2 linked regions of the Homo sapiens genome follow. The protein of the gene in region 1 interacts with the protein of each later gene in a pairwise test. Each region holds a gene or a part of one and is shown on either strand. Other genes may lie near its edges. The genes, in order: ERLIN1 and VMA12.

Region 1 (7,486 bases):
TCCTTATTACCTCCAAAATAATGGATACTTTAGTGTGGACTTTAAAGTTAGCCCCTGTTTGATGGGCTAACCAGCAGGTGTTTGGCATTAGTATTACAAATGCAAGGGTATTTGGAAAATTGAGCACAAGCAACACATCAAGATTTGTTAGTTGTGGTTTTTGGTTTCACTATTTTGTTGGCACTTTTCCTCATGTGTAATATATCACCCTGACTTTTACCCTGGCTGAATTTGAAGGTACCTGTGTCATTGTTGGGTAAAACAAACATGGGTTGTACCTCTCCTTCAGTGTTTGATATCGTGAGGAACTATACTGCAGATTATGACAAGACCTTAATCTTCAATAAAATCCACCATGAGCTGAACCAGTTCTGCAGTGCCCACACACTTCAGGAAGTTTACATTGAATTGTTTGGTAAGTGTCTTAATTCTTATGTATGTAAATAGCCAATTGGAAATCTTTGTTCAGCTTACTTATTGAGGTTATATTGGTAAACCTTAGTGCTATTTAAGCATTTCTTCTGAATTTATCATAGAGCAATTGTCTTTAAAATATTTTTTATCTTAAGTTTAAAATTTTTTATATAACTTGTTAGAGATTGGAAAAACTACTCAGACTGTATTCTGTTTTTACTGTAATAACTTAGTGAAAATTAGCTTTGTTGATGTTTTAATAGATAATTTGAAAAATTTAGAAACCTGTGTCTTGAGGCTCCCATTTTTGATGATTTGGTAGGAGACTGACAGGACTCAGCACATAGTTGTGTTCACAGCTAAGATTTATTACAGCCAAAGGGTACAAAGCAAAATCAGCGAGAGGCAAAGGCACACCAGCAAAATGCAGAGGAAAGCAGGTGCAGGCTTCCAAGAGTCAAACATGTGCCTAATTCCCACAGCAACAAGCTGTGACAACACATGTGAAATGTTGTCTACTAGGGAAGCTCATTGGAGACTCATTGCCCAGGGTTTTCACTGGGGGCTGATTATGTAGGCACCCTCTGCCTACCACATAAAAATTCCAGACTCCTGGAAGGAATGCAGGTGTTTGGCATAAGCCACATTGTATAAACAGTTCACAGCAAGTCAATTGTATTAGCTCTGGGGATAGTGGGACCCTTCTACAAATCCAAGTTCCTAGGTGCCAACCAAGGACGAGTTTACAAAAGGCCTTTCTAAGGATTGCAGTATCAGCCCTGCTTTCTTAACTCACTTCTGTACAACTTACTTTTCATTTATGATAGTGGAAGTTCTGACCAGGGAATGAGTTGTTGCTGTTGGTAGCTCACTTTTCCCTCCTGAAATTTTTAGTGAATTTCTAAGATGAAGGAATAAGCAAGAGTAATCAATTTAAAATCTACCAATTGAGTCCTCTTTGGTGATTGTCAACCACTGAAGTGGCATGTGAGGAAACTGATGGGTCCTGCTTTGTCTCACCACCAGTCATTTAAATAGCGAAAGTACCATTGAGGTGAATAGAAAGTGCATAGTTACAAGCCCAAGTGTTCATGCTGTGTATATTTCAAATACTTTTCTATGAGCTTCTCTCTCTGTCTCTCTCTCTCTCTCTCTTTAAATCCAAAATAACAGTGAGGCTGAGATCCATGGAAATGAAGTTTAGTTATTTGGGAATTTGAGTAAAGATTTACTGAACATAGAAATTTGTTTTTCTTTGAGAATGAGGATACATATTGAGTAAGAGCCCTGAATTAAGATACTAGAGATCCAGATTCTCCATTTATTAGATCAACATATTTTACCCAGTAGTTGTTTATCCAGTAAATAAGTCTAATAAGTTACCCAGTAAAAAAGCTTATCCATAGTTAAGTAATACATTTAGTGGGTAAACTTATTGGATAAACAGACTATCTGCTTGTCATCTTCGTTCCTTAATTTCTTTATTAGATAATTCCTTGCAATTTTTTTCCCACACAAAAGGGAAGAAAAGGCAGTTTAAGCTCTGTAAAAGAATAGTACTGTGGAAACTTTAGGTCTAATAATGATTAGTTTTGTTTCATTATGAATACAATGTAAAAAAAATTGACTATCATGAGATCTGTTGTTCTTGGCTTAAAAAACAGATCAAATAGATGAAAACCTGAAGCAAGCTCTGCAGAAAGACTTAAACCTCATGGCCCCAGGTCTCACTATACAGGTAAGTTCTTTTCCTAGGGAAGTTCTCTGGGGATTTTGAGAGCTTTGAGTTTGTTCCTCCTTTCATTGGATTGTTTTATTCAGCAATTATTTGAGATGCTATGGTGATTTATAGAATACCTTTCTCAATTTGACTTTAGATCTCTGCCAAAATAAAATACTCTTGTAGCTTACTATGGGTGACATTTGTGAACTCCTAGAGGGAACTGATAAGCTGAGGCTCTTACAAGGAAGTAAAATTCATATTTCTGCCATGTATGAAGCATTAAGATACAGTAATGGTTATAAATCAGTGTAAGCATAATCCCTGCCCTCAGTAAGATTATGAAAAGGGAGTTCAAGTGTAAAATTTGAACAATCCTGGACAAAATAGTTATCACAAAGTATTAATTGACAGATGAATCTATTGAATGATTATTGCTGTAAGAGTAAGAGAACATTGGAAGACAGTGTGTCTAGGAGAGGGCTGTGATTGAGTTGAGATTTTAAGTAGGTTTGGAAAAATTAATTGGATTTAAATGGGGGAAGAATGAGAAAGGTATTTCAAGTGGGAGGGACAGCCCTAGTAAAAACAAGGTAGCAGGTGAATTTAGTGGTAGTGGTGATGGTGACGTTGGGAAATAGAATGGTGAGAGGTTTTACCCCTGCTTTTTTTTGGGTCACTGTGTTTTCCAGATTGTGGGTTGTAAAATCAACTTTAGTGAGTCATGAACAGCATTTTAAATAAAATGGAATAGAATAGGAAAAGAAATGGTATGTAATAAGTTTAAATATTCTGTGACACTTGTGTTTCACAGTGTGGCGGGGTAGGTGTTTATATTGGACGTCAGTGCAAAATGTGTTTCTTACTGTGTCCACTGTCAGTAACATTCGAAAGCCACTGCTCTGGATCCAGATGACCTAAGAAGTTATATTGAGGCTTCTCTAGTGTCCTTTCTCAGGAGCTCTAGGAGACCAGTTGATTGTTGATTGTTGTGATGAACATTACTGCAACTAAAGCTTATCACATGTCTCTCAATTCTTTACACTCAGCACCACTGCTACTGAGAGTGTGCGCTCACTGTGATTGTATGTGTTCGTGCTTCTCAAAAACAAGACTGAAAGATAGGTGGGGTTTTCCTCATGGCCTCATTCATGCAATGTCATTATCTCAGGCGCTTGAGGGTGAGCCACCAGAGTTAAGGGGTCGTTTGAAATGTCCAGAGGTAACTTTGTAAAATCCTCTGAGTTGTTCAAGTCAGTTGTAGCTGGAGTAGCTTTTTAGTTTTAAAGATAGTGAATGTGAAGGTCAGCTCTTAGATTCTGCCCAGGGTGTTACTCAGAGATCTAGCTCATTCAACTGTTGTTTAGAATTCCTTGCCTTATATTACTTAGCCATTTTTCTGTTCCCAGTTTTTTGCTATTAAACAATAGTGTAATGAACATTCATGACACATGTTCTTGTATGTACAAATTATCTTTCAAACTGACTGTACAAATGTACATTCTTAACAGCAATATGTGCAAATAATTGTGACCCATGAACTCACCAACATTGGAAGCAATCAGACATACTGATTGTTACCATATGGATGGGTGGGCAATTATATCTCCCTTTGATTTGCATTCCTTTGGTTGTTAATGAGGTTGAACATCTTTTGATACATTTATTGGTCATTTATACTGTCTTCTGCTGATTGCCTATTCATATCTTTTGCCCATTTTTCTGTTGGATTGTTTTCTTTCTTACTGATTTGTTCTGTATAAATTTGGAATTTTTATACACACACGTTATTTATGTTGTAGAAAAAAGTTAGATACTAGGAAAATGATGAAGAATAAAATGAAATTCACCAGTAATCTTATTATGCAGGGATAACATCATTTGTTATATCTTTCTCGACTATTCTTAATGTATATGAACAAATGTTTGTAGATATAAATGCATACATGCTCAACTAAAGCAGAATCATACCATACTTGCTTTTTTCACTAACATTGTCTATGAACATCTTTCCAAAACAAAAATATAGGTTTGGTAAATCATTACTTTTAATGGTTATATTTAGTGAATCTCTATGGTTTCAAATTTTTTACTACTGTATGCATGTTGGAATGACCAAGCTTATATATTCTGTACATCTTTTTAAATCCCTCTCTTACAATAAATTCTTGAAGTGGGATTGATGATCAAAGTGTATGCCCTGTTTGGGGGCTTATTGATACATACTACCGAATCACCTTTTAGAAAAATTTTAGCAGCTCCCCCCCTCATTAGCAGTGTTGGTAAGCTGTAGTTCTTACACATTTGATTGCATGATTGTACCCAAATAATTAGCAGATGCAAGCTTTCCCTTTCTCTCTTAATCCTTTTGGAGAAAATTAGTCTGTTATTTTGTGTTAATTATTGAAGTTGAATACCCTAGGTTATTAGCTGTTTTTATTTCATTTATAAATTGTTGGTTTTGCTCATTTTTGTAGTTAATGGTTTTTCTAACTGATTTTAATAAGCTATTTTTGGCTGGGCATAGCGGCTCACATCTGTAATCCCACCACTTTAGGAGGCTGAGGTGGAAAGCTCCCTTGAGCCCAGGAGTTTGAGGTCAGCTTGGACAACATAGTGAGACCCCTTCTCCACAAAAAATTTTTTTAAAAAATTAGGTAGGTGTGGTGGCATGTGCCTGTAGTCCCAGCTACTTGGGAGGCTGAGGTGGGAGGATGACTTGAACACAGCAGGTTGAGGCTGCAGTGAACTGTGTTCATGCTGTACTCTTGTCTGGGCAACAGAGCAAAACCCTGTCTATAAATAAATAAATAAATAGCATTTGTATATAGAGAACTTGTTTTTGAACCTTACCCTTTGAGAGGGGTAGAATTCGTTTTTAAAAATAAACTTTTTCATATGTTAGTTATTGTAGCTCTTTTTTATATTTATAGGAAACATTTTCTTCAAATTTTTTCTTTGTCATTTAACTTTGTTTTTTCCTTGCTGATAACTTTGAAGTGTTCATGTTTTACATAGTAATTTCAGTGATTTTGTCTTTATGGTGTGTTGCTGAGCTGGCATGTTTTAAGAGCTTTTCACCACCTTAAAAGTATAGCAATTAAAATTAGAAATTATAAAAATTGTATCTGCTTTTACAGTTGTATTCTTAGATTTAAATCTTTTAATTCATCTGCAACCCATTTTGATCTCAGTTGCAAGGTAGGCCTTCAGCTCCATCCCCTCAACCCCAAATTGGGTAACAGCGGTAATTACTGAATAGTTTATTTTTCCATCTTCCCCCTTCTTTGAAATAGTTTTTATGTTACATACTGCATTCCATTATATACTAGAGTCTTTTTCTGAACTTAGTTCTGTTCCATTGATCTTCCCATTCCTACTCTTTCATTAGTTATTGAGTCCTTGGTCTTTTCTCATCAAATCGAATTTTCTCCTGTGTTTTTCATCTTGTCAGTTAATGGTAACTCTTTCCCCTCAAGCCAATCTAGAAGTGTAGGAGGCATCTTTGACAATCGCCTCACCCTCAGCATCTAATCAGTCCCTATGTCCTGCAGATTCCACCACCAAAATCCATGTATTAATAAAACTGACCACACCTCCATCTTCACTGTCATCTCAAGCCAAGCTACCAACTCTAACCTTGACATGTGCAGTAGCAGTAGCCGCCTGTCTTCTTTCCCCACTTTCACTTTTACCTTTGTCTACTTCATTTTCTGCACAACAGCCAGAAGGATCTTTTGAATTTACTTATATTTATTTGCTGTTTTTATAAAAAGTTATTGATTGAAAAAATGTAGTTTTGTTATACGTTCTTAAAGTGGTAGAGATCTCCATTGTTTTAGGGTTTAAAAAAATTTTAAAATAATTTTTATATTTTGCAATAACTTAAGCATACCCTGAGAAGAGAAGAGCTCCTTTGCTTTGGTTGCTTTTGTCTTGTTATAAAATTTTTTTTACAATAGTTGGAATGCATTTTAAGAATTTCAAGGCTGTTTTTGAGCTTTGTTATTTTTAACACATTACCATATGGTTGTGATAATTCAACTTTTTATTTTAAAATCTGGCAAGAGACATCATCTTTTAAAAAATAATGGCCTTTGCTGTTTCTGCCAGCTTAATCTTCCAGATGAGTTTTCATTATCGATATTTTCAAGCTATATCAGGCACCTAAGTGGTCATATACATGTTGTTTTGTTTTGTTTTGTTTTGAGACAGGGTCTCCCTCTGTTGCCCAGGCTGGAGTGCAGTGGCATGATCATAGGTCACTGCAGCCTTGAACTCCTGGGCTCAAGTGATTCTCCTGCCTTAGCCTCCCAAGTAGCTAGGAGTACAGGTACACACCCCCACATCTGGCTAATTTTTTTATTTTTTGTAGAGATGGGCCTTTGCCGTGTTGCCCAGGCTGGTCTCAAACTCCTGGCCTCATGCAATCCTCCAATATAAGTTAAAAATAGAAACATAGTTTATGGCTTTACTTTATCATATCAGCCTTTTTGGTTTTTAGAATTTCTGATTTAGGGGAGAAACTCATATCCTAAGTTAAATTAATACCAATGGATTTAATGAATTTTAATGCTGTTCAATATGTAGTCTTTTTTTTTTTTAATCATTGAGGAATGTGATTGATTCTTGGTAGATTTATCTTATATCTACAACTTGAATTCACTGCCTTCTAGTAATTTTTGGGTTACTATTTTTACAGTCACTATTATATTTTTTTCCTTTCCATATATTTATATACCATTTTTCTTCTTGAAAAACTACTCTGGCAAATTAGAATGATGAAAATGGTCATCTTTGATTTTTTTTTTCCTATGTTATTTAAGGGAGTGACTATATTATAGACTGGCTTTTGATATATAATATATGCTTAAAACCCAGGGGTCAGTTTCAATACATATATTCCTTTCATTAGCCATTTTTTTCCTCCATTCACTCTATGTATGTGAGTGGGATGGGGGCATTATTTTATTATTTGAGGTTAAGAGCAGAGGTTTAATAGGCAAAAGAAACAGAAAGGAGAATAGCTCTCTCTCCTGTGAGGGAGAGGGGTGCCTGAGTGGGACTTCCCACTTTTACTTTTAAAATCTCTTTTGATGCAACTTACTCATGGTATCTGTACAGTAAGTGTTTATGTTTTCACATATTTGAAAATCTGTGAGATTTCCCAAGATTGGCAAGCACAATGTAGTATGTTCTTCAGCCTCATTCAGCAAAATAGGAGTCTTCAAAAGACAGTCCTGGCCGAGTGTGGTGGCTCACGCCTGTAATCCCAGCACTTTGGGAGGCCGAGGTGGTTGGATCACCTGAGTTCAGGAGTTCGAGACCAGCTTGACCAACACAGTGAAACCC
Region 2 (3,653 bases), on another chromosome or scaffold:
TACAAGACATGGTGGGACTCTCAGCGACCTGGGAAAGCAAGGTGAGGTACTAGGAGATCAGGCTTCTAAAACCTTTTCCTGAGATGGGTCATGACACTCAGGCTTGTTGTTTGACTGAAACCCAGTTGGTGGGGGAGCCATGAGATAAGAGCACCTCCTAGAGAATGTTGAACTAAAGGTGCCCTCTCTGGCTCCTCCCCAAAGTGAGATCATTGAAGGCTCTGGTCATCACCATCTTCAATTTCATTGTCACGGTGGTTGCTGCCTTCGTCTGCACTTACCTTGGAAGCCAATATATCTTCACAGAAATGGCCTCGGTGAGTAGGCACTGGGCAGGGCAGGGTGCCCCTGGTGGGGGTGTTAGTGGGTAAGGGAGGACGTATGTGAAAGTGCCTTGCACAGGTTAGGTATTGAACAGATATTTATGCCATTAATAAGGGGAGCATTAGAGCTTTCCAGCAGTCACGGGAGGTTAGGTAATAACCCCAGGAGAAGCCACATTCTCTTTTCTTCCCCTCCCCCAACTTAGAGGGTGGTTGGGGGGCTCTCCATCCTCATTAAAGTTGCTGGGGTACAGAGCTGGTTGTTGGCCTGCATCCCTTAAGCCTGGTTCTCCCCATCTCCAGCGGGTGCTAGCTGCATTGATCGTCGCCTCTGTGGTGGGTCTGGCCGAGCTGTATGTCATGGTGCGGGCAATGGAAGGCGAGCTGGGAGAACTGTAACTGGTGCTTCATCATCAAGTCTAGAGAAGACTTTGGGGGCTTCAGGCTCCAATTGGCAGTCACCGACTCAGTCAACCCATCAGACTTTTTGTATTCAGCTCCAGTTAGTCAGAAGACCAGCCCAGGCCAGCTGCTGTTTCTGTGGGGAGCCCTAATCTTCTGTGAATTTCCAAAGGGAGCATTGGAGGAGATTGAGATAACACATCTTTAAAACAGAAAGAACTGGTCTTGGTCTATCAGTACCTCTTCCTGAATCTGGTACCCATCTGCCTTCTCCAGTTCATTCTAAACACTGCTGGGACTAGGGTTTTTCCATCAGGAGCAAATGGAATCCAGGCCTTCCCAGAAGTAGACCATACTGCCTTGAACTTGTCCATATGTACAAACTGATCACCAGCTTTCTCCATACATTTTTAATGCAGACCTGTAATTGAGTTCAGAAGCCTCCAAGAAAACAGAAAGGATCCCCTTTCTCCAGTTTGTGCTGGAAGAGGAGCTGATCAGAGACATCAAATAAGAGAAAGATGGGTTGCTAGAGGATGGTAGAACTGGAAGCAAGGCAGCTACCTTTTTGCAAAAGGAAATGGTGTTAGGCCCCTTTTCCAGAAGATAAGACAGACTCATAGAGATTAAATGATCACTATGGTCCTTCTTCTGTTAAATGGAGCCAAAGACGCCTATGTTGTTCTGAAGTCTTGTAATGTTTAACTTCTGAGAACTTAGATTAGTGGTGTGATGATAGAGTCTGTATAACGCATTGAAAAGGGTATCAGGCTTAGTTATTTATCCAATAAATATTTATTGTATGCAGGGTATTCCTATTTTAACTCCTGTGACAACACAAAGCATAGCGATTTCCATAGTTCTAACTGTTCAGGGTCTGCTCCTCCTGGTACACTCTTTTTGGTTCACTGTATGTACTCCTGTTGTCTTTTTTTTTTTTTCCAAAGCACTTTTCTGTTTTCATAAATTATATACTCATTCACTCAGTGGACACTTCCTCTACAATGTTTGCCAGTTTCTGTTAGTTGGGAGAAGTGTCAGCTGTGAAAAGAAAAAGTAGGTGGCATTTTACAGTGTTTCCAGTAACCTGAGCTATATAAAATTTGTGTTAAAAAGCTACACTGGGCCAGGTGAGGTGGCTCACACCTGTAATCGTAGCATTTTGGGAGGCTGAGGCAGGCGGATCACTTGAGGTTGGGAGTTTAAGACCAGCATGGCCAATATAGCGAAACCCCATCTTTACTAAAAATACAAAAAAATTAGCCAGGCGTGGTGGTACATGCCTGTAATCCCAGCACTTTGGGAGACCAAGGTGGGAGGATGCTTGAGTTCAGGAGTTTGAGACCAGCCTGGGCAACATGGCAAAAGCCCATCTCTACAAAAAAACGCAGAAATTAGCTGACATGGTAGCGCACGCCTGTAGTCCCAGCTACTCAGGAGGCTAAGGTGGGAGGATCACTTGAGCCTGGGAGGCAGAGGTTGCAGTAAGCTGAGTAAGCCAAGATCATGCTATTGCACTCTAGCCTGGATGACAGAGTGAGACCTTGTCTCAATGAAAAAGCAGGGGGCACTGGGAGGGGAGAACCAAATGCCCTATCCTCCAGTTCTCAGCATATAGAAGGGAGCTCTCTCATCTGCTAGCCACTCCTGCCTCACTGTGCCATGCTTTCTGTAATGCACTCTGGGTCCAGGGACTGCTTGGCAGGAGGTGGGAAGAACAAGAAGTTTAGGGCCTTCCCAGTTTCTTAGGGCCTGTCTGGAGAGGGAACTAGCGTTTACTGAGTTTTTACGATGTGTTACACACCATGTAAAGCCCTTTACCTACATTATTTCTTATACCCCAAACAGAGAGCAAATAAGTATCCCCATTTTTTAGTCACATAGAGTTCCAGAGTTGCCACAGTTACATCGCAAAGTCAGGATTTGAATCCAGTGCAGACCGCAAACACCATGGTTTTCTCTCCAAAGCAGAGCAGCTCCAGAGGTGGAGGTGACTGGAATGTCCTAGATTCAGTGGGACCAGGAGCTGGGGGTGCTAGCAGAGGCTCTCATCTCCCCAGGGTCTTGTCAGTCAGAGTCCTAAACCCTTCAATTAACTATCCCTCTAATCCCAGCTGAAGCCTGGGTAATACCTCCCACCAAGAGGTATCTGTGTGGAACCTGGCCCTATTTAGGGATTAGGTGATGGAGATAAATTTCCATGGCAAACGGCCCTCGTCCCCGTTCGTTTGCAGAGCACAACAATCCAGATTAAGGTACAGAGTTTGGGTTTTATTTGGAGATTAGTTGGTATTACAGGTGATGGTGATACCAAAACCCAATGCTGCTATACCTGCCTCCATCCCAGATCTGTCAGGTTGTCTCCACAGCCCCACATCAGAGGGCATCCAATCTGATCTTTGTGAAAATTAAATCAACATAAGCCCCAGCTTCCTATCTTTGCTTCATTACTTTAATGCCACTCCCTCTTCACATCCGTAGTTCTGATTAATTTGTCCAGGTGGTCGATGGTCAAGAGAGGGGGCCCTGACCCATAAAGAAGTTGGCTCTCCAGCAGTCTAGATGAGGAGCAGCACTCTCCTCTCCTACCTCACTTAGCAGTTAGCAAGGTAATGGCCTGGAGAGACCTCAGGAGACAGGAGCCTGCCCCTTCAGAAGGAGGAGGCCATCAGCTGGTGAGAACTGGGGACCAGGCCTGGCAAGAGTGGAGGAAAACATGACCCTCATCTCATCCTTCTGAAGGTACCACCTGCCACAACAATGAGCATATGCCCCAAAGGGGTCAGGGTGTGGGGTGGCAGGAGCCAGGCCCCAGTCTGCTTAGGACCTGCATCTAGGCTGGCCTGGAGGCCAGTGGAAGGGAGGGATGCCTGAGCTAAACTCCTTTCCCGTAGGGAATCCCTTTGCATAAAAAGTGGGGCCAGGGAA

Evidence for each region.
Region 2: the proteins of ERLIN1 (region 1) and VMA12 interact in binary tests that used the Homo sapiens proteins (3 or more experiments, as listed by UniProt).

What each region holds. Positions count from the first base shown.
Region 1 is NC_000010.11:100,168,874-100,176,359, reverse strand, and holds part of ERLIN1 (erlin-1), read left to right. Parts: intron 1-289; coding exon 290-415; intron 416-2,078; coding exon 2,079-2,152; intron 2,153-7,486. UniProt on the Homo sapiens protein: Component of the ERLIN1/ERLIN2 complex which mediates the endoplasmic reticulum-associated degradation (ERAD) of inositol 1,4,5-trisphosphate receptors (IP3Rs).
Region 2 is NC_000017.11:28,360,531-28,364,183, forward strand, and holds the end of VMA12 (vacuolar ATPase assembly protein VMA12), read left to right. Parts: coding exon 1-41; intron 42-123; exon of another isoform or gene 124-204; coding exon 205-317; intron 318-626; coding exon 627-722; 3' UTR 723-3,153; downstream 3,154-3,653. UniProt on the Homo sapiens protein: Accessory component of the proton-transporting vacuolar (V)-ATPase protein pump involved in intracellular iron homeostasis.